Linked DNA regions of Homo sapiens: region 1 is linked to region 2. Evidence: fine-mapped expression QTL. A gene starts in region 2. The other region holds a variant in brackets. All regions are shown on one strand. Distances are between the middles of the regions. Region 1 overlaps FYB2 (FYN binding protein 2). Region 2 holds the start of FYB2 (FYN binding protein 2).

The links.
Region 1: its variant is fine-mapped to the expression of FYB2 in skeletal muscle (GTEx, PIP above 0.99).

Annotation. Positions count from the first base shown.
Region 1 is chr1:56,785,321-56,788,349 of GRCh38, forward strand. FYB2 (FYN binding protein 2) reads right to left here. Exons shown (of 20, transcript NM_001004303.5): 4 at 1,855-1,888. Among named protein-coding and RNA genes, the nearest start is that of FYB2, 33 kb to the right of the region's middle. The variant C/T (reference allele first, on the strand shown) is at 1,501.
Region 2 is chr1:56,818,336-56,820,835 of GRCh38, forward strand. FYB2 (FYN binding protein 2) reads right to left here and starts at 1,069. Exons shown (of 20, transcript NM_001004303.5): 1 at 947-1,069. The coding sequence starts at 955.

The sequences.
Region 1 (3,029 bases), 33 kb before region 2:
AAGAACAAAGAGCAAGTGAGAGCACAGCAGAACACTGTCCCTTCACACTGTCATACTGGGACCTATGTTCATTGAGTAAACGGTGCAAACCATTGCCTGAGCCAGTTAGATTATTCTCTCTCTTTCACATAAATACGCATAGAACACGTCTCCACTGACCTGTCTTGTGCTGTCATTTAACTCTTTCAAAGGGATGACTAACCCAGGAGTTCCCAGAGCACATGAATTGCGTCTAACACCACACTACCAGTTCCTTGTTGAATAAGATTGTCTTATCAATTCCCTGTTGTACAAGATCCTCTGTGATGTGGTTCCTGTTTACCTCTATAATCCCGTTTCTATACCATTTCTATACTTTCTACACTCTAAGTGTACTTATTTCTAGTTTCCACAAATTAAACATGTTGCTTCACACCTCCTGCCTCTACCTAGAGTGTCCCTTCCCATGCTGTGCTGCAAATGTGCATCTTCAGTACTCATTTCAAATGTTTCCTCTTCGGGGATAGGTTGACTGGATCAATACCCCATTCTTCACTCCTTCCTGCATCCCTGCTTTTTGCCATGAAACTTTCAGCACCCTCCCACTCTGCTTCTGGGCTTGGCCATATTACTTGCTTGGACCAATAAGATGTCAGCAACTGCAACACAGTAAAGGCTTGAAAAGTACTGGTGTGATTGGGCTTGTCTTGCTTGTTAGCAGCGACTGTAGGAGAGTGCCCCTGGGCTAGCTTGCTGGATGAGGAGAGACAGATGGTGCCAAGTCAAGGTGCCCACCATCCCAGCCAACACAATCCTAGATCAGCCAACTGTTAAGCTTCCCCTCAACATGTGAGCCACCCCAGCCAATATTGCAAAGTTGCCTAGATAGCCTGCAGTCTACTGCAAACATATGAGCAAACCCAGCTGACCCCAGCCCAGATCAGCTGTACTCCACAGACTCATGTATGCTATGAAAGTTTTTTGGTTATTATGTAGCATTACTCTAGCAATGGAGAACTGATACTTCTTTAAAGACTTCCTTGACCCTCCCAAGAAGATGTAACAACTTCCTCCTTAGTGCAGCCTCTGAATCTTGTCCTTTCCTCTATTACAAAACTTAACACACTTTACCATTGTAAACATTTGATAAAGGAATAAGTAATATGATTATTTATTGTTAAGTTTGGATCTCCTTCTGAGACTAACCTTTTTGAGAACAGGAACATCTTTGTGTGGGAGGTGAGGTATATAATCAGTGTAGTTATGGCACATCTGGGTTGGAATCATGGCTCAGCAAGTGGCAAACTTTCTGAGCCCAAGTATCTTGAGCTGTAAAATGTGAGCGGCAGCAGCAACTGTGCAGCCCTCTTGAGAGAACAGAATGAGAAATCTGTATAAAGTAGCCAGTTGAGTGCCTGACACATCAAAGGTCTCAATAGATATTATTTGGTTAAGTGAGTTAAATGAACTGACACTTCTGTGGCAAAATTCTTAGAAGGAGTACACCAAAAATAGAACATC[C/T]TTTATCCTATTACCAATTCCTAACATCACACCAGCTGCCCAGAGCATTCTTTAGCCTCTAATTCAATTTATGACTATGAAGGGTGATGTTTCAATTTACTGAACCCAAGTGTGTAATAAAAAAAGGACCTCTGAGGACTATCTTTGCAACTTAACATCAGTACGTGTTAAATGCAATTTATTTAATCTTTTCTTTACAACAAAAGTTACACTTTGTTGCTTATAAGTTCACTGCTTCTGAAACCCTTCTGAGAAATACAGATTCTTGGTTTGTGCTAATTGCCTGCTCTGGAGCAGTCTAAGTAGCCTCTGTGGTGGGCTACGTTCCTACACAACTAAGGAGCATGTACTTACCTCTCTGGAGACAGGGAGCCCTCTTCCACAGTCACTGCAAGAGAAAGAGGCGGAATGAAAAAGAGGCATTTGCAGCAGCCTGGTTAAAGTGAATGATGCTTGTGTGATGACTTGATCCCACAGATAATGTGGAGAGTGGAAGCTTGCCTGTGCCTGAAACATCCCTTACCTCCACCCCAGCACCCAGGGGATGCCTGTCCCTGCATTGCAGCACTCACCCACACTTTACAGTACAATTTCTTATTTATGGGTACAATCTCTTGCATTAGACTTTGACCTCCTTAAAGACCAGAACCCCTGTGGGGTTTATCTCTTAATCTCTCATTTCCATCACAGGACATGGTACAGAGATTATAGCTGCTCAATGTTTGTTTCAAATAAACTTGGACATTTACAGAGCACTTCCTGGTATACCAAGCACTATTTAAGCCCTTTCCGGGCATCATGTCTCATTATCCTCACAATAATCCTAAGAGATCAGTGGTATCCCCATTTTACAGATAAGGAAATTATCCCTATTTTATAGATAAGGAAAATGAGGCTCAGTGATTAACAAACCCAAACTTAAATAGCTAGTGAGTTCAGAAGCTGGGATCTACAAAGCCCATTTTATGGCAAAAGACTTAGTACTTTGTTCTATGTTGCTGACAAACCTTCTTCTCATTCAGAGAGAATATTTGAGGCCTGAATTATTTAATGTTTATAAAAATCACACTTATCCTTCTTTGATTTGGAGCTGTCCATATCAGTAAAGTATACTTATAAGAGCCTATCTCCCCATATAGAATTTTCTTTTAGGATAAGACTTAAGATGACTTGTAGCAGTGGTTCTCAAAGTGTGGTCCATGGACCAGCAGCCTCAGCAACCTCTGGGAACTTGTTAAAAGGCAAATTATCAAGCTCCAACTCAGACCAACTGAACCAGAAACTGAGAATGGAGCCCAGCAATCTATGTTTTAAAAAGTCCTCTAGGTGATTCTGATGTACACTCAAGTTTGAGAATCATGAAGTCAGAGTAATTTAACCATGAAGTTGCCCAAAGCAGTTAAAATGAACAAAGACTGTGTTAGCTGTCTCAGTGTACCTGCCATCTGCTGGTGCTGATGGCCACAGTAAAACAAATGTTAGCACAGCAGTACATTTTGTCCCAAAGTGTATGTTCATCTTGTGTTTCA
Region 2 (2,500 bases):
CAGCAAAAGCTAAAATGGATCCTCTGCCCTGATTTAAAACCAAACTTGTGGGTGAGAAGCCACATGATTCATGGGAGAAAATGACTTGACTCCAAATATATAATAAAAAGTATGGAAGCAACACACACACACACACACACACACACACACACACACACACACACATGCACACGCACATCAAAAGAAACTGACTTACTGAAGACGGAAATAGAGGAGAGTGGAGAATTGGAGAAGGAAAAAGGAAGATGTGGTCAGTCAGGCAAGACGTCTCCAACTGTGCCAACAGCACTCAGCCATCCAAGGGGCAGGGAATGCTGGCGTAGGGCAGGATACTTTTCCATACATCTCTATTTATACAAGCACCTCTGATAGTCTCACAAAGTAGTTATTGTACCAGTAATTCTCTTTCATGAGTGAGGGACCCAGGGCTCAGGATGACGGACACACTTGCCCCAGGCCACACAGTTAACAAGGAGCAGAACCCGGTCTAGAGCCACAAGCCACAAAAGAGCAATGCACAGCCGGCTTCCTAGCACCAAGCACTGCTCTCTGACCAGGAGGCCCGCTAATCACTGCAGAGGCCAGATACAGTCCACAAGGGCAAGTAAACACAGAGAGAAGCCAGCGGGCGCTTCAACGGAGGATCTGGGAATAGGTCAGGAGTCCAGCTGGCTGGGTAGAGCTAGGCCACATGCTGTCATTCCTCAGCACCTCCTGTCCCCTCACACTCCAGGTGGCACAGGACATGGCACACTCCTCTTCCCTCCCACCCGCCCTGAGCAAAGCCAGTGTGAGCAGAAATGCACTGGCTGACACCTGACATGTTTATTCCTGCCCAGGAGGCAGCACACACAAGCAGTTTTTCCCCAGGGCTCTCAAGTGGGAGGAACTTGTCCTGCAAGAAAAGACACACAGAAAGCCAGCAACAAAACTGAGACAGCCTTACCCCTTCCATTGCTTTCCTCCAAGGCAGAGTCAGGGAAACAAGCCCAGCCTCTCAGAGCTGGGTCCTGGGGCCAACAATCCGCTTTCCTCTGTCTCTGCTAGCCAGGGAGCAATCACTTCCCACAGGACACACCTGAGCCCAGGCTCCCCACCTGCCCCATCTGGGCCGAGGCTCCTCCCTTGCCTGGGGCTGGGCCAGGGCCGGCCGCCATCCTCCCAGCTTGGCTTAGACCAGCACCTGCAGGGGACTGGGGAGAGTACTCCACCTGCAGTCCTGCCAAGCCCACCTCTTCTCAGCAAGCGGCTCTTCCCGTTGCTCCCCTCCGGCTGGTCTGACAGTCACTCACTCTCCAGGGCATTTGTGCCCAGGCAGCAGGAGCTGTGAAGGAATGGGGATGGCAGGCTCCTGTTAGTACAGACCATGCAGGCTGGACAGTGTGATCCCCGTTAGTAACAACCTCTGCCAGCTCCGCCCCTGCAGACGGCTACTTAATTTCACAAACCCTTTCTCACGGTCAGGGAAACCAAAGCCCAGCAGGACAGCATGCCTAAGCCCACAGGGGGATTTAGTGGAGGCCAGAAAAGGAGTTAACATAAAGGAGCACCCTGTTTTTGGCCTGGTGTTTATTGAGGCATTTGGATTCCCATTTTAAAAGGTGAAGAATGGCCGGGTGCAGTGGCTCACACCTGCAATCCCAGCACTTTGGGAGGTCGAGGTGTGTGGATCACTTGAGGTCAGGAGTTTGAGACCAGCGTGGCCAACATGGTGAAACCCTGTCTCTACCAAAAATATAAAAAAAATTAGCCAGGTGTGGTAGTGGGTGCCTGTAATCCCAGCTACTTGGGAGGCTGAGGCAGGAGAATTGCTTGTACCTGGGAGGCAGACGTTGCAGTGAGCCGAGATCATGCCACTGCACTCCAGGGGGACAGAGTGAGACTCCGTCTCAAAAAAAAAAAAAAAAGTGAGGAAACTGAGTCTCAGAGAGATGGTAACACCTGCCCATGGTCACATAGGTAGTAACTAGAAGAGCCAGGGTTGGAACCCAGATCTGGCTGACTCTAAAGTGATTTTATTTTGCTGGGGTTATTTTTGTTTGTTTGTTTTTCTGACAGAGCTGGAGATGGAAACCCAAACCTCAGTTGCCAGTTTTGGGGCTTTCAGCTCTCCCGGGGTTGGGGATGGGCAGAGTGGGTGGCCTGCGCCCTGCTTTATGTGTAACCGGTGTGACTTTTCTTGCTTTGTCAAGTTCTTAGAAATCTTCTCCTGTCCTGACCAGGGAGAGGCGGGGTGGAGCACAGGTGAGGAGACCCCGCCTGAGGGCCATTTCCTCTAACAGGTGATTCCCAAACCTGGCTGATCACCAGAGCTGCCTGGGAATCTATCAAAAATACAGGATTCAAGTCCCAGACAAAACACTGCATCAATGCTTCTGGCCCAGGGACTGGCAGTTTGGGTTTTATAAAAGCCTTTGAGGTCTATGTATTTTAAACTTTATTAATGAATGACTCACAGTAAGATGTACCTTTTACATCCTTCCTCAACACACATACACAT